4 separate regions of the Homo sapiens genome follow, and all the other regions are linked to region 2. The links come from fine-mapping of genetic effects on gene expression. A gene starts in region 2. Each other region holds a variant in brackets. All regions are shown on one strand. Distances are between the middles of the regions.

Region 1 (7,909 bases), 36 kb before region 2:
TTCAAATGACCATAGCATGATATTATGAAAGCACACATGAATAAAATATATATTCACAGTAAAGACAAATCAATAGACTTTAACATAACAGTACATGAAAATGTATTCTTTTATATTTCATATTGCAACTAACCTTCATAACGCTACCTCTTGACTTTTAGTGTAGTATCAAATAATTATATCAGATAGCTATTAAATACTCTTTTTCCATCTGCATATTTATGTGAGGCTGGATTTTCTTTATACACTTCATTCATAATAGCAAATTACAACAAAATTAATGTAGAAGCAGATGTAAGAATACAGCTATCTCCTATGAAGTTAAACATTTTAAAAATATGGAACAATGCCATTCTTGTCCCTTAGGTTTTTTTTGGAAAATAGAGTTATTTTCCATAAAATATCTTATGCTATCACAAAAAATGTAATTTATGTTAACATTTAATTAGTTGATTCTTATTTCTAATAAACATACTGTTTAGAATTATTAGTTTTATTTTTTAATATTGTAAATTTTGACAGATGTACACTTTATTAGTCAGTGTTCTCTAAAGAAACAGAACCAACAGGATGTATCTAGTAGATATATCAGAGAAGATTTATTATGGGAATTGACTCACTTGATTATGGAGGCCAAGAAGTCCCACTACATTTTGTTTGCATGCTGGAGAATTAAAAGAGCTGGATAGTTTTTAAGATCCATCTCAACTCAAACATCCAGAGCTGTGTCTTAATATCTCCCAAGCTTCAACCTGCATATAATACTTCTCATTAATTTATCAGACAAAAGCAAGGGGTGTGTATGAGAGAAGTCCTGTGATAAATACTCTTTTCTTTGACTGTAATGAATGAGAATAATTTGGGGGTCCCCAAATGGGCCAACCTGAATTGGGGTACATTTCCACTGATGTCAGTCACAAGGATCAACTTGGAAACCCAAGCATTTCCTGATCCTTAAGATTTATTCATTTTCTTCTGCCAGATATCCCCATAAAATAGAGTGCCCTGCTCAGTGAAAGGTTTCATTTTATGCCCTTTGGCCTGCCCTGAGAAGCCCTGGAGGTGGAAGTTAGGATGGGTGTAAGCCATACTCACTTCTCAAGACTGTTCCATCACACACCAAGAGACAGGGTATCTTTTTGTGCTCTGTAGAAAAGTGCTGAATGCATCACTAGACACAACTCAAACTCTATTTATTCCGATCATGTTTCCAGTTACTTTTCACCACCCTTGCATAGGGGGCCTCCAGCAAAGACATCTTGATGACCAGATTTGATCGACAAAGAAAACTTCCCATGTGATAACTAGGTGACATAGAGATTAGGTTAGAACATTTGGCTTCTGGCTCATTCTGCCATATATCTTGTATATATGCTTAAAAGTTCCCTCTCATAGCTCAATTCCATGAGCCTCTATCTAAAGTCAGCTGTAGTCTCCAACTCATACCTCAAACTAGTTACTCATAGGCCACTCATAGTCATAACATTCCAAACCTGCCCATGCCCAGACTTCTTTCCTTCCTAACACGCTCCAAAGGAATCCACCCTCCTCATGCAGTTTTACCTCTTTTAAACAGAGCAAGCTATTTACAGTAAACAGAGGTACCCAAGATCTGTTCTCACCTCTCAGTTTTCCATCATTTGGGCTGGATACATCAGAATAGGTTCTAAACTTGGTTTGTGGTGGGGCGAGGGAGGGGGGATTCAATTCCTGAGTTGATTTGGTTGCCATCTAATAAGAAGTAGGTCGCTCATATATCCACCTGCGTTAACTTTAAAGTGGAAGTCCTCTTTATCACCTGATCCCAATCCCCCTAACAACCCTGACAGATAATAACAATAAACGATAATGTGTACCATTTATTGACCATTACCATGTTATAGGCACTGTGAGAGAAACACTTTGTATGTGTTATCTCTTTTAGTCATCATTGTAACTCTAAGAAAGATTCTCTTATTGTCCATTCTAAGATGTATTAACTCAGACTTAAAACAGAAGAGCCAGAATCCAAAGCAAGGTCTAATTCCAAAACCTGGATGTTAATCCCTGCTGGACTGAGTCTCAAAATGAGGAAAAAATGCAGGTTAGGTATTAATTCAAGACTCTTCTCTGTCCACACCCCCCCACACACACACCTACAGCTATTTTATAAACCAAGAGTTTAATTTTAGGATATCTAGAAACGTTTAATAATAAAGTTCAGCCCAATTGTCCCAGATTACTGTAAGTGCTTGCCACCACCCACTCCAACACACAGCTATTTGCTCTTTGCCACTTGCCTTGTCTTAATACTCAAGACAAAGTTGAATATAGGTATAGATAGAAAGGTGTTCAGTGAACTGAGAGGACTGGCACTAGTCAAAAATTCAAAATACTTTACTTTTCTTTGTTATGTTCCCTTTCATTTCTGAAAAAACCATCCTGTCCCTTTCTTCTGCTTTTTTTCTCAGAAATCTTTCCCTGTCTTCTTGTTATCTAAAGTGCACTCCATCATGGTCCACAGTGTCCCACACTCCAGATTTTCTCTAGCTACCCAAATCATCCTATACACTATATTGTAGGAATGCAAACTAATAACACTACACTATTATAATAAATTGATAATGCAGCTGTTTGTTTCTTACTAATAGACTTACCTGTACCCCTTCCCCCATTCCTTATGCTGTTTTCACCAGCTGCTATTTCTACAGCTTTAAATATTCTTAAAGGCGTATTTTGTTTCTTTCATTCATTTGGTTTCTATTGTTATAAAGAGACATTATTTGACACAATAAACTCAGGGACTCTATTCATTTTTACATTCTTCCTGGAATGCTTATAATCTCAATTGTTTGAGCATTTGGATATTGGATTCACCTGGCCAATGTGCAAAGCAGAGGTAGTAAGGAAATGGGCAACTGGGATAATTTCTGAGGGGCCCTAACAACATACACACTTTAAAATACATGTCATATCACTTGTTGCAGATTTATTTCAACATTAAACTCCTCCATATAATGTCAGCCTTTATAGTCTAGAGCACACGCAATCCATTCACAATCCACAAAAATTTGAACAAGGGCTGAGACTGAGACAGAGGAGATTTTTTCATCCATCTTTTCCTAGTTACCTAGGATTTAGAAGGTATATTAGGGTTTTCCAGAAAACAAATTATATAATTCACACACACACATACACACATCTATACCCATACTTTGTGTTGAGTATTAAGACAAGGAGAGAGGCAAAGAACAAATAGCTGTGTGTTGGAGGAGGTAGTGGCAAGCACTTACAGTAATCTGAAATAAGGGGCTGAACTTTAAAAGTTTCCATATATCCTAAAATTAAACTCTTGATCCATAAAATAGCTGAAAGTGTGTGTGGGATGGGGGCAGAGAAGGATTTTGAATTAATGCCTAACCTTCCTCAGTGTGTGTGTGTTTGTATGTGTGTGTGAATTATATATTCTCTTTTCTGGAAAACCCCAACATAATTTCCAAGTTTAAGGTAACTAGGGAAAGACGGGTGACAAAAAATCTCCTCCATCTCAGTCTCAGCATTTGTTCAAATTTTTGTGGATTGTGAGTAGATTGCCATGTGCTATATGGCAATCCAATCACAATCTCTGTGTGTGTGCTTGTGTTTCTGTCTATCTCTCTCTCACACACACACACACACACA[T/C]ACACACACACACACACACACAGATTATAGGAACTGGCTCACAGTATTATGGAAACTGAGAAGTTTCATAATATGCTATTTGCAAGTTGGAGGAAAAGCCAGTGGTGTAACTCCGCCCAAGTCCGAAGGCCTGAGAACCAGAGAAGCCAATGGTGTAATTCTCTGTCTGACTCCAAAGGCCTGAGAACCAGGAGTTCCAATGCCCAAGGGCAGGAGAAGAGAAATGTTCCAGCTCAAGTAGAGAGAATTCACTCTGCCTCTGCCTCTTTGATCATTTCTGTCCTAAATGGATTGAATGATACCCACCTACATCAGTGAGGATGACTCTTCTTTATTCAGTCTACTGATTCCAAAGCTGATCTCTTCTGGAAACATGCTTATGGACACACCCAGAAATAATCTTTACCAGCTCTCTGGGCATACCTTAGCCCAGTCAAGTTGATGCATAAAGTTAACCATCACAGAAGGCTTGGTACCAGTTGATGACCCTGAGAAAATCAAGGATTTTCTGGAGTTTTTGAGATGTCCTGGTGAATATATCATAAATGGGGTATAGTGGTCCAAGTTGTCTATCATCTCCTGTATGGAATGGGCAAAGAGTAAGGAGATGTAATTGTTGCTTCTCTCTCACTCCTACATCTATACATCCAAGTCTGTTCTTGTCTTTTTCAGCCACACAGCTAAGATTTCAAGCAAAATCAACATAAAGAGATTATAGAGAATGAACTTTGTCTAAGAAGACAACACTTCTACTCCCAAGTCTCAGATCCTAAAACACTACCTGTTGCATTGTAGGTGTGCAACATATATTTGTTAAATAAATTTAAAATATTTACACTAATAATAACTGCCATTTACTAGGTGCATGTTAAGTACTTGGCAATGTACTGAGCAACTTATAGACCAAATTACATCCCAAGGAGTAAAATTCTCATTTCACATTTGAAAAACTTGAGAAACAGAAATGACAAAAGACTATCCAAAGCCCACACAGCTTGCAAGTGTACTTGAGCCCCCACTCACTCTGACTTAAATAACTTGTCTCAATACTCCTGTGTCCACCTAGGCTACAGGAGACATCTCCTTCTTCATCTCTGAAATGAAATTTTTTTCCACTTTTTTCACAATAATCATACCTTCAGAGCTCTCTCTCTCTCTCTCCTTGCTTTGTTTCTTCAACTCCCAAATATTCCTGTCTCAGGCAATATATTATTCCAATCTTACACCTCTACACAGAAATACCTGAGACTGGGTAATTTATAAGGAAAAGTGATTTAATTGGCTCACTATTCCACAGGCTGTACAGAAAGCATGATTCCGGCATTGACTTGGCTTCTGTTGAGGCCTCATGAAACTTAGAATCATGGTGAAAGTCAAAGGGAAAGCAAACCACTCACATGGCCAGAGCAGGAAGAAGGCAGAAAGGGGGAATGTGGCACACACTTTTAAACAACTGGATCTCATGAGGTCTCACTCACTATCATAAGAACAGCACCAATGGGGAAATCCACTCCCATGATCTGATCACCTCCCACCAGGCTCCACCTCCAACATTGGAGATTACATTTTGACATGAGATTTAGGCAGGGACACAGATCCAAACCATATCAGGCAACAACAGCAAAAGTCTTTCCTTAATTTTTTGCCCTTTTTATATCCTTTCAAAGCCAAAAAGACAAAGGTCTTGAGTGTTCTAACACACTCTCTCCCCAGTGCCCCACAATTTGGTTTCTGTACTTTTAATTTTGCTGAAATTTAGTTTTGGGGTATTAATCACCAAAACTTTTTCTTAAGTTCATTTTGATATTTTGCCAAATGATCTGTGAAACACTTGGCCAAATTTCCCTTAGTAGCCCATTAATTTATTCTATATTTAATAATTTTTCCCCTTCTCTTTGAAAAAAAGGAAATAAATTATCACTATCATATTCCATTCTCAAGTAAGTCAGATGGTATTATCTGTGAACCTTCTGTGAAGTAAATACACAGAGACACATAGCAGGTCTCCTAAAGTGTTTGTAGAAATTGATGGGTGAGTTTTAATTGCACCAATGCAAGATTGACTCTCAGTCATTCACAAGTAAGACCAAAGAAGAAATGGCAGATACCTTCAGCAGCCATTGGAAACATCTCAAATATCTCCCAGGCAGCAAACAGAGGTTGACAGCTTTAGGGTTCTAGGTTTGCAAGAAAATTGTTTTACAGTCCATATGAAGGGTCTAAGATACATCCATCCATCCTCAACCCTCCCTCTTCACCTACCTCACATCCAGGGACTCAGGAGTCTTGTCAAGGACTGGTGTGATTTTAGTAGAACCCTAGAGTCATGCAAAAGGTGCATTTTTTATGACAATTCGGTAGTTTTGTACCTTATTTTTAAAGAAATTGTATTGAGTTTATAATTATGTGTATCTATGGTATAAAATGCAATGTTATAATATAATATAGCATTATATATGTTATAATGGTCTTTTTGGCATTGAAAGGATATAAAATGTGGATGGATTTAATCAAGCTAGTTAACATATCAATCACCATACATACTTATTTTTGTGGTAAAAACATTTGAAATTTACTCCCTTAGCAATTCTGAAATATACAATAAATTATTAACAATAGTTGCTAGGATGTAAAATGGATGTCAATGACTTGTTTTTTTCTGCTGCACTGAAACTTTATCTTCTCTTACCAATATCTCCCCACTCTGCTGTCCCTACCTGCAGCCTCTGGTAGCCACCATTCTACCCCCTACATCTAATAACTTTAACATTTCACCTGCAAGTGAGGACCTGAAGCATTTGTCTTTCTGAGCCTGGCTTATTGTACTTAACTTCATGTCCTCCAGGTTAATCCACGTTGTCTCAAATGACAGCATTTCCTTCTTTTTAAGGCTATATGGTATTCCACGGTGTACTATATGTGTACAAAACATACCACATTTTCTTTATACATCATCCATTGATGGGTACTTAGTTTGATTCCACATCTTTGCTATTTTGAATAATGCTGTAATGATCATGGGAGTACAGATAACTCTTTAACATACTAATTACATTTCCTTTGGGTATATAACCAGTAATGGTATTCTATATTAAATTATTACATCTGTTTATATCACCAGTCTCCCTTATGAGATCATCAGCTGTTGGACTGTTCTGTTCATCTTTGCATCCCCAAGATCAATCATAGTATCTGGCATTAGCCAGAATTTGGGACTTATTTATTGAATGAGAAGAAATATGGATGAGTAAATTACTTAACTGAGGAGACCCTATGCTTCTGTAACCTGAGATGGTCAAGATTCCAGCACCCATCATGGTAATAAAGAAAAATATCTTTGGCCCCTCAAATCATTAAGCAAAAGGGAAAAGTCAAGCTGGGAACTGCTTAGAGCAAACCTGCCTCCCATTCTATTCAAAGCCACCCCTCTGGTCACTGAGATAAATGCATATCTGATTGCCTCCTTTGGAGAGACTCATCAGAAACTCAAAAGAATGCAACCATTTGTCTCATATACCTGTGACTTGGAAGTTCTCTCCCAACTTTGAGTTGTCCCACCTTTCCAGACATAATCAATGTTTATTTTACATATGTTGATTAATGTCTCATGTCTCCCTAAAATGTATAAAATTAAGCTATGCTCTGACCACTTTGGGCACATGTTGTCAGGTCCTTCTGAAGCTGTGTTACACATGTGCATCCTTGGCAAAATAAAATTTCTAAATTAACTGAGACCTGTCTCAAATTTTCAGGGTTCACATTTTGGTAACTATGAAGGGATTCTGAGTGGAGGTGTCGCTGAACTTTGAGAAATCTCCTCTCAGTGCCAGATACCAGCATGAGCTAACTTTATGACTCAAACCAACAGAACAATTTGCTGAGGTCTGAGAGAACCCCCTTCAGAGAATCCTTAATCTCCTCAAATTTTGTTTAGATCTAAAGTTTATTTTGCCGTACAACTCCCTCTTTTATTGGAGTTTTACTTGATTCCAACAAGAAAGACAAGTTTTTCTACTTCCATGATGATGGAAGGTGGGTAACTCTTTTGTGGAGTTTGAGCTCACTTCTGACAAGGAAGATGAGGTTTTTTTTTTCTGCTTCTAGGATGGTAGACAGCTGTCTTCAGCCTGAGACTCATCCTTAGGTAAGTAGCTAAATTGAGGTTTTGTCTTGGCTAAAGTTAACAACAAGCTGGTCTTAATTTCTCCTTATCATTAGAGCGCTCAGTAGTCATATAAGTTGTGCAATC
Region 2 (7,909 bases):
AAAGAATATAATCTTCTGAAAAAAAAATCTTGCAGACTATATTGTGTGTAGTCCCTTTTCTCCTAAGGAACAAAACCATAGGAAGAAAAAATTGTTGATTAGTGATGATACCACCAAGTAGAAATTGGCAAGATCTAGGAATTGGAATTATATGTTAGCAACCTTAAAAATAGACCAAACTCTTTTATTCAGTAATTCCACATCCTGAAACTCATCCCAAGGAAATAATAATAGATATGTTTAAGGATGTAAACATAAGAAAATTTATTATAATATACTGTATATAAGATATAATACAAAATTCATTATGAAGAAATGATCAAGTTAATGATGGTGTATCCAAATAATAGATTACCAGGCAACTATCAAAATGATGTCTTTGAAGAGTGTTTAATGACATAGGAAAACGTCTGTGTTACAAAGTCAGGAAAACATATGATGTAATCCCAATTAATAATATAAAGATGCAGGCCAGGTGCAGTGGCTCAGCCTGTAATCCCAGCACTTTGGGAGGCCAAGGCGGGCAGATCACAAGGTCAGGAGTTTGAGATCAGCCTGGCCAACATAGTGAAACCCCGTCTCTTCTAAAAATACAAAAAACTACCTGGGTGTGGTGGTGAGTGTCAGTAGTCCCAGCTACTCAGGAGGCTGAGGCAGGAGAATTGCTTGAACCAAGGAAGAGGAGGTTGCAGTGATCTGATATCGCACCACTGCATTCCAGCCTGGGTGACAGTGTGAGACTCTATCTCAAAAAATAAAATAAAATAAAATAAAATAAAATAAAATAAAATAAAAATTAAAAAAATAATAATATAAAGATGCATAGGTGAATGGTTATCTGTGTATATGTACATTTGCATATACCCACCTGAAAGTCTTTCTGAAACAAAGTAGTATATAAATAAGATATAAATATGAACTTTTGAACTTTCTTCCAGCCATATACACGGCTGACAATATATATAAATATGTAATACCTCATATGATACTTGAAGACAATATATAAGAATGGCCATATTTTCCAAGAACCAACAAATAGAAAATTTTCTACACTATTTTGATGGTTTGCAAGGAAGCCATTAATATTTTTTGCAATCCTAGAAAACTCAGTAAATATGACATCTATGTATGCATGTATATATGTAAGTGTATAGCCATAATCAATACAAAAGGAAGCACAGTGGTTAACAACATGGGCTTTGGAATTAAACAAACCAAAACTCCACCCCTGGCTCCTCCTCTGGCTATCTGGGTCACCTTAGGTAAGTCAAATTATTTGAGTCTCTGCCTCAGTTGCATTATCTATAAAATGGGGATAGTAATATCTACTTTGTAGGTTGTCATGAGGATTTCATTGCCAGAAAAGGTATGTGAAGTGTTTAGCATGGTGGTAATTTGTGTATATACAAGGTTCTGAAGGACATTTTAAAGACCTCTAATCCAGTGAAGGTGACCATTCCACCGGACAGAAACATAAATGAAGAAAACTGCAACTTCAAAGATGGACTACATGTAACTTGCTTGAATAAATCTATTGACACAAAATAGATATTTTGAGGCAAACCACAGATCTAGAAAAAGCTAATGTGTTTCTGTCACTGTCTAGGATGATGGGTGCACTAACCAAATGGCACAGCATTCTGCCCATTCTGCAGGCTTTGGTAGCATATTCCACAAAGGAGAGCAATCAACTTCAAGGAAAGAGCGACCAAAGCAGTCAAAGGCTGCTGAGAAGCTAAAAGATATGAGTACTAAAGATGGCAGTGCATTTTGGAGTTAGGAGTTGATTACTGACTTGGTAAGAGATGTGGAATGAAACGTGAGGAAGTGAAGGTAACTTTTTCAAAGAGCTTGACCAGGAAAGGAAGAAGAACATGAGAATATCGAAGGACAGAGGAGAGGTACAAGAGCTCAAAAAAGGCATTTCTCTTATTAGATGAGAGTTAAGCATACCTATACTAACTACAAGAGGTAAGATGTAAGTCATTAATAGGCCAATGTGTAAACAGGACATAGAAAGGTGACAGAAATTCATTGACCTTATATACAAAATGCCAACCCTATTTCAGCTTCTTTATGTTGATTAATTCATGTAATCGTCAATGATAATTCTCAGCATACTTGTGAAATTAAGTTTTGGACTGGAAGAATACTTCTTTCAGTGAAAAGTCAGAAAAAAAATTAGGATGGATGCAGATGCAGGTGTATGTATGTACGTATACAGCAGGTCATCAAATAATGTCATTTTGTTCAATATCTTTTCATTACAATGGTGAAGAGAAAAACATCAATTCCTGGCTGGACTACTGTCTATGTGCAGTTTGCCTGTTCTCCTCATGTCTGCATGGATTTTCTCTGTCTAAATTGTCCCAGGATGAGTGAGACTCTGTGTGTGTGTGTGTGTGTGTGTGTGTGTGTGTGTGTGTGTGTGCGCCCTGTGATGGAAAGGTGTCCAGTCTGGGGTGGGTTCCTGCCTTGTGCTCTGAGCTACCAGGACAGGCTTCAGTCACTTGCTCCCCTGAACTGGAAAAAGCCAGTTGAAAAATGAATGAATGAATGAATGAATGAATGAAACATTCATAATAAAACAAAAATTCATGAAGTCTATGATAATCATACAAATGAATGACAATAAACAATGCTGTGCCAAAGGACTCAGTGAGGCCACCATATTTGTGATTGAATTTTAACTTCATAGAGGCAAGAGGTGCTCCTTACAACTTTTGCTTTGCAAACATTTATTTCTCAATTTAACCCACCACTACTGTGACCACCATCACACAGACTCACCAAAAATTAGGTAAATAATTATCTTGTTTTTATTAATATTTATTAAATGTATACGCAGTTTCCATTTAGTTCATTGTTTTATATTAGAAGTGTTTGGGTTCTTTATTTATAAGTTTGGTGATGTTTTTGTGACCAGAAATATGCTGTAGGAACTTAACTCTTCTTTATACTAATTAGCTTATGGTAAAATTAATTTTGTTATATGTTGTTTCATTTGAAATTGCAGTTTCCAAGAACCTATTGACAATGTTAAGTGAGGACTAATTTTATATGGGAGTACACAGGGTTAGAAAAAAAGAGCAGAGAGTTGGCAAGTTATTTTTGAATGTCTGTTTCCTGGAAGAGGTAAAATTTTTTCCTATTTCCAAAATCACTTTTTAGCAGTAAGTGGGTGAGGGAGTATGCCAAGAAAGTGTCGAGAAAAAGAAGTAGGATTTTATGGGAAACAGTTAGGGTTTAAATGGCTTTTGATGTTAATGGGAGAAAGAGTGGACTAGAATTAGCAAGGACTAGCAAGCATGCTTAGGATAATGTAAAGATGGACACTATGATTTGGAAGTGTTACTCAACAATATATTGAGCTCAGCTCCCTGAGAGTAGAAGCAGAGAAGACAAATTAAAACAAACCAAGGTTGGTTTTTTCAGGGCTGGTGTAGCAAAAAAGATAAGGTACAAAGCATTTGAATATATAGAAATGAGAGATTGAAACTTACAAACTGTAGCATCCAGGAGAGAGAAGAGAAAAAGTAAAGTAGGTTGGAGACCAATAAAGTAAGAAAATATAGAAAAAGCCATGGAAGAAAGTACTTGATGAAGTCAAAGAATAGCAATGTTAATAGACAGGGAAAAATGTACTTAAAAATAGGAGATTGGGATCAGATATTAGACTATTAGAGGTTAAGATGTCAGAGGCACTCAGAGGTAGATCAGTTTGGGATGTAGGGCTGTTGGCTTCAACTCCAAGTCAACAGAGTAGGAGCCAAGAAGGGAATGGGAGTTTCAGGTACCACAGACATGAATAGGATGTAGCAGAAGTTTGTTGGAGAGAAACATTAGGATACCAGTTGCCAAATGTTTCAATGAATGGAGAGAAATTTGGCAGAGGGCAACAGAAAAGCATTGTTTTATTCTAGCCACATGACACAGAAGGAAGAAGGAAGATTTTTCTATGCAAATAAACCACTAATACTTTAGAAGCAGGATTGGAGGCAAGGAGAATATTGATTTTTTTTTTCTGCTAACAGTATTACTATGGAGATCTAGAGGGTGTCAGAGAAAGGTACAAGCATATTGATAACTTATAATTCAAGGAAAGCATTTGGACATTTTACAAATTCAAAAGGATACGCACTGGCTTTTTCTGAAGTATTTCCAGTTTCAGGTACCTAAAAGGTTTTGAAGAATTCATTCTCAACATTGAGACCCTGGGGAGTGCTCTTTCCAAGGGTTTGCAGGGGAAAAGAAATAAATTAACAAATACAAATGATTTAGAACAAGAATCCAAATTAATTGAACTGCCAAGATAAAAAGGCTGTTCTAAATAATTCTGCTTACCTGAAGTTTCTTTGTAGACCTGTAGGCACACTGCCTGCTGCAGTTTCTCAGTATGGCAATGGAAAGGTTTCTGTAGCTAATACTCTACGGACTGAAACACAATAAAATTCAACTGACTCACGTTGTCACTGTTAAGCATAAAGCTTCAGGAAGTTATGGGTTCCTGTAGATTAAACCAGACGTTCTGTCCATAGACAAGAAATCACAGGCTTTGTAGACCAGAGGAGGACTGAGAATATGTTCCATATTGAGCAGCTTCTACAATTCTAAGAAGTTTTACTCAAGAAGCTTTTGATTTATATATAACCTCTTGTAGCTGAAAGGCTATTCTAGAACAATATTAAGTCAATTTTCCATTGTTGGCAAAAATAGCACAGCTGCAGCCTTATTTAAATGATGTCAGTAGAGCAAACAAAGAGTTGGAAAGTTTGATTTCAATGCAAAATACTTGGCTTAATACTTTCAACCATTTGTGGCTTGGAAAAAGCCAAAAATGCCTCAAGGAAGTTACTGTAATAATGAGAACTCAGTTTCATATACCTTGTCCTCTGGTTGTCTAAAGTGGAGCAACAGGGAGGGGCATTGTAAGTTTAAGAAGAAAAATCAATTACTGGAGAAAAGTTTCAGGGGGACTGGAATTAGCTTTGTAGTGGAATAGAGACAAACATTGTTTTTCAAAGTGTGTTCCTCACACCACCTCCTTCAAGATCAATTAGGCTTGTTTGTTAACAATACAAGAACTTTTCCAGATCAGGTAAATCAGAGGCTCCCAGAGTGCCTGGCAATCTGTATGTTATAAAAAGCTATCTAAAAGAATCTGATCAACATTACATTTTGAAGACATTGAGATTAAAACATGGGAAAATATAAGTTATAAAATTTTTATACTGGGTGCAGTGGCTCACATCGGTAATACCAACTACTTGGGAAGCTCAGGCAGGAGGGTCGCTTGAGGGCAAAAACTTGATACAAGCCAGGGCGACCTAATAAAACCCCAGTCTTTAAAATTTTGGTTTTTAATTAGCCAGATGTAGTGGCATGTGTCTATAGTCCCAACTACTCAGCAGACTGAGATGGAAAGATTACGTGAGCCCAGAAACTTGAGATCGCAGTAAGCTATTTCACCACTGCACTTCAGCCTGGGGAACAGGGTGAGATACTATCTCTAATTAAAAAAAAATTCACCCACTTTCTGGAAGTGAAAGAAACTTCACAAATTGTAATCATTTATAGCATGAGAAAAGCAAGAGTTATTTTTACACAAATAAGGAAGCTGTTGCTGAGAAAAAAATAAATGTCTTCCCCCAGGTCACAAAACTAACCAGTGGCAATGTCTGGAACATGAGGCCAAATATCGAATTATTTTAATGACACTATGATTCCATAGAGAGTGATTCTCTACCCTTAGGCAGTTTATATCTTCTTACAAACCTAAATCATCTACTCCAGATGACATATAAAAATTATCAGTGATAATTTAATACTATCTACACATTCTTGCTATGTAAGGCATTGAGTTTTATAGTTTTAGTTACTCTACTTTTTGAACCAAAAGTGGTTCACATAATCTATCAAAGAATTTTACATATTCATAATTGTAAACGATTATTTTGTTAAATACATATCAAAGTTTATAGAGTTATACAGTAAACTAATCATCCTTTTTAAAAAATGGTCCATTTCAACTAGTCAATACATATGTTTTATTCCATAATTGACAGCAAACTGTGGATAGTTGAGAGAACACATATTTTTTTTCTATACTGAGTATTACTTAAGTAATTTCTTGAGCCATTAAATTTTTTTTATATAGTTTATAATGGGGAGGAGAAGCAAAGCAAGTGGCAGAATAGAAGGCTCCACTAATCATTTCCCCATACCCCACAAGGCACCAACTTAACAACTACACAGAAAAAAATACCTTCATGAGAGCCAAAAATCAAGTGAGCACTCATAGTACCTGGTTTTGACTTCATATCCCTGAAAGAGGCACTGAAGAGACAGTAAAAAACAGTCTTGAATCACCAATCCCCATCCCTCCCAACCTCAGTAGCAGTAGTGTGGTGCACAGTATATCTCTGGGCACGGGGGTAGAAAGAACACAGCAATTATGAGGCATTGAACTCATTGCTGTCATGTTAGACACAAAGGAAAACTAGACCAAACTCAGCTGACACCTGCCCATGGAGGCAGAGGGAGCATTTAAACCAGTCCTAACCCGAGGGGAATCACCAATCCCAGCAGTCAAAACTTCAGTGACTGAAAACCTCACCACAGAGGGCCTAAAGTTCTCTGTGTTTCCAAGTAAACGTGAAAGGCAGTGTAAACCATAAGGACTGCAACTCTTAAGTGAGTCCTAGTGCTGAATTAGGCTCAGAAATTGTGGACTGGGGGGACACTTGACATACTGAGACACCAGCTGGGTCAGTCAAAGGAGAGCTGGTATCACCTCTTCCCTAACCCCAGGCTGCATAGCTCACAGCTGCTAAAGAGACTCCTTCCCTCTGCTTGAGGAATGAAAAAGAAACAGTAAGGCGAACTTCATCTTGCATCTTGGATATCAGCTCAGCCACAACAGGATAAGGCACCAAATAGAGTTGTGAGGCCCCCGTTCCAGGCCCCAGCTCCCAGACAACATTTCTAGACATTTGCTGGGCTGGAAGGGAACTCTCTGCATTGAAAAAAAGGATCCAGTCCTCACAGCATTCATCACCTGGTAGAAGATACCCTGAGCCCTGAATAACCTACAGCAGTACCCATGTACTATTAGTACATTGAGGACCTTGCGTGAGCATCTGAGGATAGCAGGTTTCAGGTGAGACTCAGCACATTTCCAGCTGTGGCAGCTCTGGGGCAAGATTCCTTCTGCTTCAGAAATGTGGAAGGAGAAGTAAAGAGACTTTGTTTTGCACCTTAGGTGCCAGCACAGCCACAGCATGGTAGAGCAGCAAGTGGGCTCTTGACATCCCCAATTGCAGGACTTAGCTCTTGAACAGCATTTCTGGACCTTCCCTGGGCCAGAAGGAAGCCCACTGCCCGGAAAGGTGAGTCCCAGGCCAGGTAGACTTTACTACAAGCTGATTTAAGAGCCCTTAGGCCTTAAGAGAACACTGGTTGGTAGTCTGGCAACCAGTGGGTAGGGGTGACTATGTGGTGAGACTCCTCTGTCTTTGGAAAGAAAAGGCAAAAGTGGGAAGAACTTCATCTTGTGGTTTGAACCTCAGCTCAACTGCAATATAATAGAACACCAGGTAGCCCTCTAATGTTTTTGACTCTAGTCCTTGACTTCTGGACAGCACATCTGTATCTCAGGGCCTGAGGAATCTCACTGCCCTGATGGGAAGCACACAGGCCTTGCTGGCTTTGCTACCTTCTGATTGTAGAGTTCCAGAGCCTTAAGTGAACATAGGCAGTAGCCAAGGAGTGATTACAGCAGGCCTTGGTCAAGATGCAGTGCTGTGCGGACCTCAGGCCTGATCTAGCACAGTCATAATGGCGGTGGCCACAGGAGTGCTTATGTCACTCCACCCCCAATTTTAGTTGGCTCAGAACAGAGAGAGAGGCT
Region 3 (7,909 bases), 63 kb after region 2:
CTGAGGTCAGGAGTTCGACCCCAGACTTGCCAACATGGTGAAACTCCATCTCTATTAAAAATACAAAAAGTATCCGGGCGTGGTGACAGGCACTTGTAATACCAGCTGCTCAGGAGGCTGAGGCATGAGAATCACCTAAACCCAGGAGGTTGAGCTTACAGTGAACTGAGATTGTAACACTGCACTCCAGCCTGGGCAATAAAACAAGACTCTGTCTCAAAAAACAAAATAAAATAAAATAAAATAATTCTCAGTTAATGGCCAACATTACCATCATAAGTCCTAGTTTCCCTCTCTTTCTCCTTTTGTGTGTCTTTTATTTTGATCTATGCTCTTCTCTCCCAAGTTCAGCCTCTTGCCCCTTCTTAAGGCTCTCTGGGCATTCACCCGCATGTGTTGAGTGTCCACTTCTCTCCTTATTTTTCAGTTGGAGTGGATTAGTATCTCCAAGTCAATATATCAAAAGTAGAATTACTGACACACTCATCACTCCTGGCACACACAGCATCTCCTTCCTCAGACTTCCCCATATCACTTAATGCAGACTTTATCTTTCTAGTTGCTCAAGTCAAAAGCCCAAGAATCATATTGAGCTCTCTTTTTCTCTTATTTATGGAAAACCCCATTCACAAGCCAATTCCATGGGCTCGCCCTTCAAAATAAATGTGGAATTCAGCATTTTCTAACACCTCCACCATTACCGTCTGAGGCTGGGCTCCGACATCTTTGCAATCCTGGGATATACTCTTAGCCATCTTCTCCCTTCCACACCTCCTATTGTCCTCCTAGAGTTTGTCCCCCACGCAGCTGCCAGAGAGATTTTTAAAAATATGTCAGGTTATATTACTCCTTGCTACAAATCCTCCATTTAAAATAAATTTCATATTTATAACAAAATCCAGACTTCTTCATATGGCCGACCAGGTGCTTTATGCTAATGGAATGTGCAGATGCTCCTCCCTAAGGAGCACTTTTTTCCAGGGAAAATTCTCTATCTCCAGTGATGTCAGAAACTTTCGACAATACTATTCTCTACCACCTCTTGCTTTTAACAGCTTTTTTCCTCCAGATTCTACAATGAAAAGAAGATCAAGTCTCCTTGTGCAATGATTTACTCTCCGATGCATATTAGTGCCAGTCATGTGCACTGCTTTCAGATGATTCAAGAATAACAGCGATTTGAGAAAGCTGTCTTTACGTTTTTCTCTTCCCTGTTTCTGTTTGATATTATTTTTACAATTACACTTCTAAAGTTTGCTCTTTCCAAACACCACAAGACCCGTGTAATTTAAGTGATTTCAGGAGTCTCTGTGTATTTTACATTAAGTTCAGAAACATGCTCATGATTCCACCAAAACTATCAACTTTTACATAAACATCTGTCCTTCTATGAGTTACAAAATAATTTTCACCATCATCTATTAATCCACCATCTTCTCCCCTTCTTTGACCAACTTCTCAAAAATAACACTCAATACTGAAGGCATCTCCTTCTATTCATGTTCTTAGACAGTAAGACGTTCTGTTCTTAAACAGTAAGATGTTTTCTCAAGCCCCATGCAAAGCACTTACTTGATTATCACTTTGGAGATACCCAACTCTGGAGTCTTCATCCGAAGGGTAAAGTTCCACACCCAGTAATGCGCCTCCTGGGAAACAGGCCTAAATACTCTTCATCTGAGGGGTAAAGTTCCGCACCCAGTAATGCGCGTCCTGGGAAACAGGCCTAAGCAGTGCTGGCCCCTTCCTCGTCCAGACTGGCATTGTCTGTGTTCGCCAGCCCCTCCACGAAGTTGGATCATTTGCGGAGCAGGCCAAGTCCCTCTAGACCTCACGCAGACGCGGGTGCAGCCTGCTCTGCGACTTGCAGTCAGCTGGAAGCTGGGCCTCTGCATCATCAGGGTGGAGCTCTCTCTGCTGCTGCCGCTGGATCCCGCCTGGATGCACGTCCCGCCACCGCCGCCGACCCATCAGCGGCAGAAGGGCAGCAATGGCCACACACCGAAGCACCTTGGCGGGCTATTCCCCTTGCAGCTCTCCTCAGCGCGCTGCTCCCACTCGCAATCAAAAGGCGGAAAAAGCGCGAAACCGCCAGGCATCTCCCATACCCACCCGGCTGCCGCGCAACCCCTCCTTGGCTTCCACTGGGAGACAGGGGACGCCGATGAGCAGGAAGAAGCAGGGCAGTGACTGCTTAGTTTATCCTGGTACGCGGGAACTGGCTGTGGACCGAGTGGTTCGGGGGAGGGGATCGCTGGGACCGGGATGGGTCATCTGGACAAATAGGGAGGGTGGGCGGGTGGGCGCGCAGTCCCCTCGGCCTGGCCGTCTGACCCGCCCGCGAGCGCGTGCGCCCAGGCGTGCACTCTCATCCCTTTTCCTCTCTTCAATCACTGTCTGGAGTGATGCGAATTAGCTTCCAAAGTGGATGAGAGGATGAATCATTTCCATCCAATGAGAGAAAACAGCCTCCAGAGACTCTTCGTCCATTGGCCAGCGAGAGTGTCAATTCCCAGGCTCCCTCCCGCGCGCCAGCCTGCTCTTCCAGGCGGGAAAAGTTCAGCTTAGACAGGCAAGAGAGAAGTCTTCCCAACACCTGCGAATCGGGAGCAGCGGGCACTAGCACGTGCACTGTCTGGTCAGGCTCGCCGGTTCTTTGAGTGGTTTTTCTGGTTCTGGGTCGGACCCGGAGTTAGGTGGATGGCCGGCAGGGGCAGTAGACAGAAGGATCTCAGCCCAAAACCAAGGAGGTTTTGGATGGGGAGCTGGGCCCCGCCCGTTGTGGTAATTCCCTTCCTGCCTCTCAGCTTCAAAGGCCAAGAGTGTTACTCCTGAAAAGATACATGGAGATCGTCTGGGTGTTCCTGAATCTCAAGAGTGTCGTTTGACCCTGGTGGATCCTTTCCTTCCCTGGTGCCCTTTGCACCCATAGAATGAGACCAGGTTCGGTTAAGCAGAGCAGAAACTTTATTCACTGATCAGGGAATGGAACAGGAGAGCTCCTGTTCAAAGTTCCTGGGGTGTAGTGAGGGGGTGCTTTTTAAGGTCTTTTAGGACTCCTAGGTGGAGACTGAGGACAAGGATTCCTGGAAAGAGGTGGGGCTTTCCAGGAAGACCTGAATGTGGCAGTCTCATTCTTTCTGTTGCACCACAGCACTACATGTGCCTAGCAAGGTGCATTTCTCCCCGGGGCAGAGATTTAGGTATGGTAATTAGCAAAGATTCATGTTAGGGTAGCGCTGCTGAGCTCTTTCCCATCTTGTAGCACGGTGGTTACTGACATCCAGCCTTTGTTTCTGTAAGCAAGCACAGCTGCAAGCACAGGTTACCTTCATAGGTTCTGGAGTTTTAGGAAAGCATTGAGGTCATTCTGTGGCCACATAGACGGTTGTTTAAACAACGCGGTGCTCATTTGAGGCGGGGGTTGTG[G/A]GATGAGGCAGGTAAAAGTGCAGATTCCATAGCTACACCCCGACATACTGAATCAGAGTCTGTGAAGGTGGGATGTGGAATCCTTTTTTAAAAAGCTCAGAGGAGCCAATTCACAGGAACAATAAAAGGTTGATCTGAGCCAAACTCCTTAATTTAGAAATGAGGAAATGGGGATCCCTAACAGAGGTACAGGGAGAGGGTTGGAGGAAAGTTACACCATAATAGTTTTAGGGTGGTTCTTTCCTGGCCTTGGAAAGTTTTCTCAGCCGGGGCTCTGATCAGTACACAGTTGAATACTTTAGGGGAAACCTCTTCATATATCCTGAGTTTTCTGTCTCTCTCTCTCTGCCTCTGCAGGTCACCCGCCAGGTTTGTGGCCTGTGATCTCTTGTCACCTTGGTCTCTCAGCTTTGTCTTCTGAAATCTGGACTTCCAATTGTCTTTGTCTTGCTGCCCTTCCTTGCGACACTGGCCTGGAATCCCTCACGGTAGTCTGCTGGAGTGGAATTTAGGACGCATCTCAGTTGTCACCATCTTTAATTGCATGATGTCTAGTTCCTTGCAAACCATTATTTCATGTATTTCGCTCTTTTTTGTTTGTTTTGTTTTGTTTTGTTTTCAGGCTAGGGGAAAATCCAGTCCCTGTTACTCCATTTTGGCCAGAAATTCAAGGTAATGACTTTTAATGTTCCTGACTACTAGTTCTATCATCTCTCTCACTTCTGGATCTGTCTCTATTCACTGATGTTTCTAGTCATTGTGGGTCATATTTTTTCCACGTTTTAAATACTTCCTGATTTTTGACTAGATATCAAGCTTTGTTAATTTCACAACTTTGGGTGCCAAAAATTTTTACATTCCTATCAATATTCTTGAGCTTTGTTCCAGTACGTTGTTATTTTACATGGAAACCATTTCATACTTTCAAAGCTTGCATTTATTTGTTAGGTGGGACCAGAACAAGGGCTAATGTTGTCCCACTATGGAAGCAATACTTTCTGAGTAGTCTCCCTGATACTTCATGAATTATGAAGTTTTCTAGTCGGATTTTGGGGAACTGAAACCATTTTCTGTCCTGTATGAGCCTCAGAAATTGTTACATCTGCTCCTTTCCGATAGTTCTTTTCCTGTTCCTTTTCAACAGTTTCATTATACTCATGCATTGACCAAGCTGAAATCTCAAGGGTTGCCCACTGCACATCTCTGATCCTCTGTGCTCCTGTGGCGCTCTTCATCCTAGTACTCTGCCATACAGGCTCCAGTCATCTTGGCCTCCCACAACTCCCAGCTTGTCTTCTCAACTCAGGGAAACTGCCAGGTTCTGCCTGTTTCCCCTCCCTGAGATATGCCTTGGAAATGCCATACAGTAAGCTAGATAGCCATAGGGGTTACCGCATATGATTTTCTTCTCAGATATCAGAGATGAGATCCCACACAGCCTGATGTCCAGTGTTTGAAAGTGGTTATTTCATAGATCTTGTTTTTTTGTTTTTTTAGACATTTAAGGTGGCAGAATAAATTCAATCCTTGGTTCTCCATTTTTTCCACTAGTAGAAGTTAGTTATATTGTCTTTGAACTCATCATGAATTCCATGAAGACTGAAGGGAACAAGTCATTTAGTGCTACAGAGGATGACCAGAGGGCTAGACCTGAAGTTTCAAAGGCATATCTACTTTTTTACAACTCCTCACTGGAGAGATAGTCTAACCGTGGTGCCAATTCAGATTCTTGGAGATAAATTCCTAAAGAATAATAGTTATAAGTCCTTATCTTAGGCTGTTTAAAATATATTTGGGGAGCTCATACACATAAGTGCTTGTGTAAAGCAAAATGATAGGGTATGAGTTAACAATGATAAACATGTCTTAAGACAACAAGATGAGTAACAAACAATATGGACACTTAAAATCATGGAAAGTACACACAGGCAAAAATAATTAGCTAATGTTTCCTGAGGAAACACTGTGTGCCTAGAATTGTGTTCCATCATTTGAATTATCTCATTTAACACTTAATATTATTATGCAGTAGGTAATATTATCATCCTTATTTTCCAAAAAAGAAACTGAAGCTCAGCTTCCTTATAGTTGCAGAAATAACGAACTTCAGAGCAAGGATCTGAACCCAGGCCATCAGACTGCAGAGGCTGGTTTTTGACCCACACTATTTTGTTCAAAATATGGAAAATGATAATACTAAATTGAGACATAAACAAGTGATTTTAGAGTACAGAGAGAAGAATTCTTAATTCAGACTTAAGAAATTAAAGCAGTGTCATATGAGACAGATCCTAATGAATAATAAATCTAAAATTGTCAAACTCATAGATGTAGAAGTGGTTGTCAGGGGCTGGGAAGAGAGGAAAACAGAGGTATTAGTCAAGGGGTACAGAGTTTCCTTATACAAGGTGAATAAGTTCTCAAGATCTGTACAGCATGGTGCCTATAGTTAACAATATTGTATACTTAAATTATTGCTAAAATGATAGATCTTATGTTAAGTGTTCTTATTACAAAAGTAATAAATGAGGGCAGAATGGATGAGACTTTTGGAGGTGATAGATAGGTTGATGTCATAGATTCTGGTGATAATGTATCTCCACACTCATCAAGTTGCATACATTAATTATGTACATTAGTTACGCATTCTGTATGTCTAAAACTAATTTATTCTTTTAAAAGAATGAATAACATTTCACTTGTGTATCAAGGATGAAGGAATGGCCTGAATAAAGTCATGTACACGTGAAAATATATTTGGCGAATAAGACAGCTGCATTTGATGGTATATAAGGAGAATTCAATAATGTAGTAGGCAAATAATGCTTTCTAGACTGGTAAGGTAGTGTGGTGCCAAGATCTCAGAAGGCTTTCTATCAATAAGAGCTCTCCATATTGCTGGTAAAAATATTTTCTAATAATGAAACAATAAAATGGATTCATTTGTTCACATGAGTGGATATTCCAGAATTCAGCAGAGCTCTTAATTCAGTTTTATACAATTTCTTCAACGGCTTGTTTGTGTGTTCGGTCTCTATGTTCTGCTTTTCATATTATTCCCTGGCTGGCTTCCTGCATAGTGGCAAACAGAGCTGCAGTAATATCAGATGTTTTATTCTCCCAATAATGAGTCTATCCTGGTTTTCTAAGGAAACTTCTCTTGCCATCTAATTGTCCCAACTTAAGTAGCTCACCCATTCCTGCACAAAACCCTGTGACTGAGAGGGCACTTACAGATATTCTTAAACTGGCATGAATTTATTTCCATACATTATGGCTCCTAAAAAGTGGGAGAGGGGTAGAATAGCTTTCTGGAAAATAGCTGCAGTATCTTTTCCTTCTTTGAATTCCATGTGTAGGTTTCTGGATTTTCTTCTGTAAATAAAGGAGACGTGTTTACAGACTTTATCTTTGTATTGCTTAGGAGGAGTTCTTCAACTCACTTTAGACTTTGTTAAGTTAAATATTAATGATAAAATGCCTAGGCTATTTTGTTCAAGACAGTTGCCATAATCACATGTGATTATTTAAATTAAACTTAACTAAAATCAAATAATGAAAAAGGTGAATAATACAAATTCTCATTTGCACTAATCACATATCAAATACTTAAGAAATACATGTGGCTGTGGTATTAGACAATACAGATGTAGAACATTTCCATCACTGCAGATATGCTATTAGGTAGTACTAGTCTACGGCATCCACTTATAGAACAGAACTAGAGTGTAAAACTGCCAAACTGTTTGTGGAGAAAATAGAATGAGAGGGAAAAATGATGGAGGCAACAAAGCAAGGGAATAAAAATTTAGAAACAGTAGAAGTTACAAAAAACGATGATAGAAATGAGCACAAAAATCCCCATGCCCAATTGATTGTCTTACAGATTATTTGAAAGACTTTAACTTTTATTGTTTCGTTTACATTTATTTATTTCATAGTAAAATTCAGTCTTCTGAGTATACAGTTCAATGGCTTATGACAAACACCTACAGTCATGTAACCAAGACCAAATTCAAGAAGCAAAGCAGTTTTATCACCCTTACTAATTCCTTGTGTGGTTCCATCACTCTAAATAATTCCCTGTGCTCCCCACTTATCCCCTATTCACCCCAGTCCCTGGCAACCACTAATCTCTTCGTTACTCTAGTGTTGCCTTTTCCAGAACATCATGTAAATGGAACATAGACTGAATTATACCCTTTGAGCATGGCTTCTTTCACTCAGAACATTCCATTTAAGATTCATGAGTATTGTTGCATGCATTGATAGGTTTTTCTTTTCTATTGCTGAGTAACATTCCACTGTGTGAATGTATCAAAATCTGTTTATCCATTCACTCACTGAAGAACATTTGAATTGTATCCAGTTTGGGGGCTTTGTAAATAAAGCTGTTGGGAACATTTGCATACAGGTTTTTGTATGAAGGTTAATTTTCATTTCTCTTGAGTTCACCTAGCAGTGGAATTGCTTTCATGGA
Region 4 (7,909 bases), 170 kb before region 2:
ATAGTAATATTAGGATTAACATCTGGGTAGAATATTACAAGAAATATCACAGGGGGTGTACGCACATGGTGTACATGCCCGGTGACATTAGGAGTAACATTTTCCTGAAATATTATGAGTAATATCACAGAGTGTACACCTCCTGTGACATTTGGAGTAATGTCCCCTAGGATATTCCAAATAATATCACAGGGCGTACATTGCCTGTGACATGAGGAGTAACATCTGCCTAAAATATTATGAATAATATCAAGGGAGAACACCCTGTGTGACATTAGGAGTAACATTCCCCCAGGATATGACGAATAATATCAGAGGATGTACACACACTGTGACATTAGAAGTAACATCCATTTAGGATATTACCAATATTATCACAGTGTGTATACCTGTGACATTAGGAGTAACAATATTGGGAATAATATCACAGGTTGTACAACCCCTGTGACATTAGTGATAACATTTCTTTAGGATATTAGGAGTAGCATTTCCATAAAATATTATGAATAATATCACTGTTTGTACAACATGTGTGACATGTACAATATCACAGGGTGTACACCCCTGTGACAGTAGGAGTAACATCCCCCTAGGGTATTACTAATAATATCACTGGGTATACATCCTCTGTAATATTAAGAGTATCATATTTCTAGGATATTATGAATAATATCACAGGGGGTACAAACACTGTGATATTAGGAGTAATATCTCCTTAAGATATAAGCTACAATATCACAGAGTGACACTAGGAGTAACATCCCTCTACAATATTGGAAATAATATCACATGGTGTACACCCCCTGTGATATCAGTGGTAACATTTCTTTAGGATATTACAAATAATATTACAGGGTGTACAGCCCCTGTGGTATTAGGAGTAACAGTTCCATAAAATATGATGAATAATATCACTGTTTGTACAACATGTGTGACATTAGGAGTAACATCCCCCAAAGCTATGATGAATAAATTCACAGGGTGTACACTCTCTGTGACGTTAGGAGTAACATCTTCCTAGAATATTACAAATAATATCACAGGGTGTACACCCCCTGTGACACGAGGAGTAACATCTTTCTAGGATATTGTGAATAATATAACAAAGTGTACACACTTTGTGAGGTAGGAGTAGCATACCCCTAGGATATTGTGAATCATATCACAGAGAGTAAACCCCCTGTGACAATAGGAGCAACATCCCCTTAGGATATTACGAATAATATCACAAGGTGTACACGCATTGTGACATTAGTAGTAATAGCCCACTAGTATATTGTGCACACCCCCTTTGACATTAGGAGTAACATCTTCCTAGTATATTACAAAAAAATTACAGGGAGAACACCTCTGTGACATTAGGAGTAACATCTCCCTAGGATATTACGAATAATATCACAGGGTACACCCCCACTGTGATATTATTTGTAATATCCTAGGGGGATGTATCACACCCCGTGTGACTTTAAAAGTGACATCCCCCTAGAATATTATGAATAATGTAACAGGGTGTACACCCCCTGTGACATTAGGATTAACATCCCCCTAGGATATTAGGAATAATATCAAAGGATGTACACCCACTGGGATATTAGGAGTAATACCTTCCTAGGACATTACTTATAATATCACAGGATATACCCCCACTGTGATATTAGGAGTAATATCTCCCTAAGATATAAGGAAGAATATCACAAAGTGTACACCTATGGTGTACTCCCACTGTGATATTAGTCTCAATACCTCTCTAAAATATTATAAAAAATATCACAGGGTGTACACCCTCTGTGATACTAGAGACAATATTTACCCTGGATATTACAAATATTATCAAGGGAGTATACACATGTTGTACACCCACTGTGATATTAGGAGTTATATTTCCCTAGGATATTACAAATAATATCTCAGGGGGTACACCCACTGTGACATTAGGAGTAACATATCCTTAGAATATTAAGAATAATATTGGGCCAGGTGCGGTGGGTCACGCCTGTAATCCCAGCACTTTGGGAGGCCGAGGCGGGTGGATCACGAGGTCAGGATATCGAGACCATCCTGGCTAACACAGTGAAACCCCATCTCTACTAAAATACAAAAAATTAGGCGGGCGTGGTGGTGGGCACCTGTAGTCCTAGCTACTCGGGAGGCTGAGGCAGGAGAATGGCGTGAACCCGGGAGGCTGAGCTTGCAGTGAGCCGAGATCACGCCAGCCTGGGCGACAGAGCAAGACTGTCTCAAAAATTAAAAAAAAATAATAATAATATCACAGGGTGAACACAGCCTGTGACATTAAAAGTAACATCAGGCTAGGATATTACAAATAATGTCACATTGTGTACTCCCACTGGGACATTAGGTGTAACATTGCTCTAGGATATTATGAATAATATCACAGGGTGCACACCCACTATGACATTAAAAGTATTATCTCCCAAAGATATTACAAATAATATCACAGGGCGTACACTTACTATAATATTGAAATTAATATCTCCCTAAGATATTACAAAAAATATCACAGTGTTTGTACACACACTGTAAAATTAGAAGTAATAGCTCCCTAGGATATTATGAATATTATCAGTGTGTACATCCAGTGTGATAGTATAAAAAATATTTACCTAGGATATCATGAATAATACCACAAAGTGTACCCTCATGGTGTACACCCACTGTGATATTAGGAGTAACATCTTCCTAGTATATTATGAATAATATAACTGGGCATAAACCCACAGTAATATTAGGAGTCATATCTCCCTAGGATATTACAAATAATATCACAGAGTGTACACCCACTGTGATATTAGCAGTAACGTCCCCCTGGGATATTACAAAAAATATCACAGGGTGTACACCTATTGTGACATTAAAAGTATTATCTCCCTAGAATACTATGAATAATATCACAGGGTGTACACCCTCTGTGAAATTAGGAGTACTATCTTTCCAGGATATTACGAATAATATTACAGAGGGTGTACATTCACTGTGACATTAGGAGTAACATCCCCCTAAGATATTATGAATAATATCACAGGGTGTACACCAACCGTGACATTAAAAGTAACATCCCCCTAGGATATTATGAATAATATCACAGGGTGTACTCCCCATGTGACATTATGAGTAAAATCTCCCTAGGATATTAAGAATAATATCACAGGGTGCACACCCCTTGTAAAATCAGGAGTAACATCTCTTTAGGATATTACGAATAATATCACAGAGTGTACACCCATTTTGACATTAGGAGTAACATCCCCTTAGGATATTACGAATAATATCACAGGTGTGCACTCCCAGTGACATTAGGATTAACATTCCCCCAGCATATTACAAAAAAGATCACAGGTGTACACCACCTGTGACAGTAGGAGTAACATCCTCCTAAAATATTATGACAAATATCACAGATTGTACACCCCCTGCGATAGGAGTAACATACACCTAGGATATTACGACTAATATCACAGGGTGACCACCCCCTGTGACATTAGAAGTAACATTCCCTAGGATATTGCAAATAATATCACAGTATGTACACCCACTGTGACATTAGCTGTAACATTCCCCTAGGGAATTATGAATAATATCACAAAGTGTACACTTACTGTGACATTAGGAGTAATATCTCTCTAGACTATTACTTCTAATATCACAGGGTGTACACCCACAGTGATATTAAGAGTAATATCTTCCTAGTACATTACAAACAATATCACAGTGTGTACACACAAGGTGTACACCCACAGTGATATTAGAAGTAATATCTCCCTAAATATTACAAATATTATCACAGGGTGTATATCCAATGTGATATTTGGAGTAATATCTCCCTTGGATATTACGAACCATATCACAGGGAGGTGGACACCGCCCGCAATATGGGGAGTAATGTCACCCTCCTCTCCCCTGCTGGATATTATGAATCATATCACAGGGGGGTGGACATCCCCCACGATATGGGGAGTAGTATCACCCTCCTCTCTCCCCCACTGGATATTACGAACCATATCACAGGGGGTTAGACACCGCTCGCGATATGGGGAGTAATATCACCCCCCTGTCCCCCCTGGATATTATGAACCATATCACAGGCAGGTGGACATCCCCCGCGATATGGGGAGTAATATCACCTCCCTCTACCCCCTGGATATTACGAACCATATCACGGGGGGTTGGACACCCCCAGCGATATGGGGAGTAATATCACCCCCCTTCCCCTCTCTGCTTTTTGCAACCAGTCAGAGGTACTTTCAATTTCCAATTTGCAGTGCAGAAAATGTGGCGGTTTGCAAAGGGAGTAGCCTCTGGTGCTTTTGTTTCTTAGGTGTGGACAGGTAGGATTTTCCTTTCAATTTAGCTCTAGGAAGTCAGCGTGAAACGGCCTTAGGTTACCTACCTCCAGACCCTATTCTCCTGCCTCAAAAGGATGCAATATAAAATATTGCTACAAGCCAAGCTGCTGTTCGTGTGTGATGTCTGCACAAAGACTTTCCTACAGGTGTATACATTCAGGAAGTGTATCACCC[G/A]TGCACCCTAACTGAAAAATTGAGTAATGTTATGTTCCAGTGTAATGAGAAGTGAATCAAAATAAAGAAATCAAGAGTTGGTAAACTATTAAGGAGATAAATATTAAAACCAATAAAATAGAGAATTAAGCTTAATTTCGTGTTTCAAATATGATAAAATAGAATGAAAGACAAAAAGTAATTATTGACAAAAATGATACGTAAAAGTAAAATTTCAGGAATAATCTGGGTTCAAAAATCTCATACTGCAGTTATTGGAAAAAATGATTGACATTAAATTGGTCTAAACTTTGCTGGGTTTGTTATTTTACATGTGGGAGTGTGCATAGATACTCTTATTTTCTTTTGTTAATTAGAGAAATACAGCCATAAGCATATTGCTGAAAAATTAGCTAAGAATTAAAAATATAATGCTAAGCCCCCCACCCAACTGAATGGACCCCTTCTTGGCAAGGGGACCCCAGAGAAACCTTAAAAAAACTTGAGTTCCTGGCCATGACAGGGACAAGAGGTCAGGCACACCTCATTCTATGGGCTCCCTTTTCTGGTTTAGACACAATAACCATCAACATTTATGTTAAAATAGAGATCATAAGACTGACAAAACAAACTCTTTGTGGCAATTAGATACAAAATTATAAACAGGACCTAAGGACATATCAGGCAAAGGTGAAGTCAAGCACTCCTACACTTAAAGAATAAACTATGGGCCAGGCATAGTGGCTCATGCCTGTAATCCCAGCACTCTGGGAGGCCGAGGCAGGCAGATCACCTGAGGTCAGGAGTTCAACACCAGTCTGGCCAACATAGTGAAACCCCGTTTCTACTAAAAATACAAAAATTAGCTGGTTGTGGTGGCGGGCGCCTGTAATCCCAGCTACTGGGAAGCTGAGGCAGGAGAATTGCTCGAACTGGGGACGTAGAGGTTGCAGTGAGCCGAGATTGCGCCACTGCACTCCAGCCTGGGCAACAGAGTAAGACTCCGTCTTAAAAACAAAACAAAACAAAACAAAACAAAACAAAAACAAAAAACCAAACAAACAAAAATCTATGTTCTAACTGTCACAAGGTTTTTCCTTTTCTCTAGCAGCTGAACAAGCACTGGCCTCAAGATAAGCAATATGGAAACAATTGTAGCTCCTTCATGCCAGAAGCCGACAAACTGACCCTGCATAACCACAGCTTTGATTGAACAAGTGACTGATTTCCATAGCTTTTTTCTGATAAGACACCACTGACCCCGTAGGCTGGTTCTGGCTGGTCTTGCAGAGGCTGTGCATTTTAGCACCTTCCAGTCCCTGCTTCACCTTCTGAATAATAGGGCCTAATTGTAATAGATTTAAATGTTAAGTCTCCACCCCGAGGTGAACATGGGATGCATGTATCATGTACGTTTGCTTACCTTGTATGCATGCAACTCACTTTCGTTAATATTTATAGCTCCCCCTGTATCCTGTTGAATATGTATACTCGGCCTACCCAGTCAGCATTGATTCCTGTCTTATCCCTCTCTCCCTGGAAGTGCTTGCTTTTGGTATTTCAGCCAGAGGCTGTGCTCCCTGCCTGCAGGTTGTAAATTCCTTAAGAAATAAAGCTCTCCTTTCTAAGTTTCTAAACTTGTGATTTTTAAGCTAACAGTGCTAATTAAATTCAAAACAAAATTTGTGACTTCCAAATTACTTAAAAAACAAAAAAATCTAGTGGGAGGATTGCATTGGGTTTTCTTCTCTTCACCTCCCGCCATGGCTAAGATTTTTCCTTCCTTAGACTTTCTCTGTATAATTAAACTCTGGTCATCAGTAGCCCACTGAGCCCCTCTTCATCTAAAGCATAACTTTTAAATGCTTTTGTGCAGTGGGCCGCTTGACAGTCTGGGGAGGCCTATTACCCCATTCTCAGGATCACGAGTCATGAATGGGGGAAATAAAACACAAGGAATATGAAGGAAACAAAATTATATTGACATATAGTTATCTGAATATCTTAAATTAATTACATCATATCTAGCTGCATCTAGCTGCAAAGTCTCATATTTAATGAGTTCATTATACAATCATAAATTAAATACTTTCAATATTATAAGAGTAAATGGTAGTTCAGTTATTCTCAGCTATAATCAGATATGAAATTTTCTCACTACCATCTTGATGAAGTCAGGGATAATGGAAATCTCTGGTAGTTTGGTACATACATTTATAATTGAAGAAAATCCTAAATTATGGTTGGAAGTTAATAAAAATAAAGATACGATTTTTCTTCTCTTCAACTTTAGAGAGCCCTTGAATTTAAACGAATGCCCAGGCAGTCTGTGGACACAGATGAAATGTCCTTGATCTAAAAAGCTTCATTTCTCTTCAGCGAAAGTTCTCCCCATGAAAACAGGGCTTCTAAAACTGCCTTCCCTCAAAGGCTGTACAAACATGCATTCCTGGCAATAACCTAGAGGAGTGCCCATTTCTCCATACTCTCCTTTATAGCAGATGCCCTCAAATGTATTCACACTTTACCAATCTAAAAAGAGAGAAAAAAAAGGTAATTGCATTGTAGTTTTATTTTGCTTTTTCATAATTTCAAGATTTTCATTCAGCTTTGGTTTCTAATTTCTTTTTAATTACAGATTTTTTTTTTTTTAGATGGAGTCTAGCTCTGTTGCCCAGGCTGGAGTGCAGTGGCACAATCTTGGCTCACTGCAACCTCTACCTTCCGGGTTCAAGCGATTTTCTTGCCTTAGCTTCCTGAGTACCTGGGATCACAGGAGTGCACCACCATGCCCAGCTAAATTTTGTATTTTTTAGTAGAGACAGGGTTTCACCACATTGGCCAGCTGGTCTCAAACTCCTGACCTCAAGTGATCCACCCACCTTAGCCTCCCAAAGTGTTGGGATTACGTCCATGAGCCACTGCACCTGGCCAGAAAATCTTTATATAACATGCATATTATAGAAAGTTCCCACATTCCCTAGGTAACTGTCATATCTGCAAAATATATAAATTGTATAGAAAAATTTAAAAAATTCATGAAACTAAAATAATTTTACTTTTCACTGCATTTTGACTAATTCATTTCTTCACTTAATAAATATTGAGTAATTATATACCGGAAACCTTAGTAGGCACAAGATGGGAATAGTGACCCCAAACTATAATTTTCAGGCACTTTCCCCTCCCCACTTGAGTAATTCAGTATCAAAAACCTCATTATCATTCTCTGTGTGTTTGCAATCCTTGCAAAGGGAGGGTTGCATGTATGCATGATAAGCACACATTCATGATACACGTGTCCCACGTTCACCTTGGGGTGGAGACTTAACATTTAAATCTATTACAATTAGAGATGCCTGTGGAACAAGGAAGTCACCTTTAAGGAATGG

What was found. PIP is the estimated chance that this variant, and not a neighbour inherited with it, causes the effect.
Region 1: its variant is the best candidate, but not a certain one, in a credible set for the expression of GLYATL2 in whole blood (INTERVAL, PIP 0.52).
Region 3: its variant is the best candidate, but not a certain one, in a credible set for the expression of GLYATL2 in prefrontal cortex (BrainSeq, PIP 0.85).
Region 4: its variant is the best candidate, but not a certain one, in a credible set for the expression of GLYATL2 in whole blood (TOPMed, PIP 0.89).

Annotation. Positions count from the first base shown.
Region 1 is chr11:58,803,783-58,811,691 of GRCh38, forward strand. No RefSeq gene overlaps it. Among named protein-coding and RNA genes, the nearest start is that of GLYATL2, 37 kb to the right of the region's middle. The variant T/C (reference allele first, on the strand shown) is at 3,661.
Region 2 is chr11:58,840,090-58,847,998 of GRCh38, forward strand. GLYATL2 (glycine-N-acyltransferase like 2) reads right to left here and starts at 4,615. Exons shown (of 6, transcript NM_145016.4): 1 at 4,345-4,615.
Region 3 is chr11:58,903,455-58,911,363 of GRCh38, forward strand. It overlaps a transcript of GLYATL2 not described here and a transcript of GLYATL1 not described here. Among named protein-coding and RNA genes, the nearest start is that of GLYATL1, 32 kb to the right of the region's middle. RefSeq lists an enhancer at 1,930-2,429. The variant G/A (reference allele first, on the strand shown) is at 3,430.
Region 4 is chr11:58,666,451-58,674,359 of GRCh38, forward strand. No RefSeq gene overlaps it. Among named protein-coding and RNA genes, the nearest start is that of CNTF, 48 kb to the left of the region's middle. The variant G/A (reference allele first, on the strand shown) is at 4,539.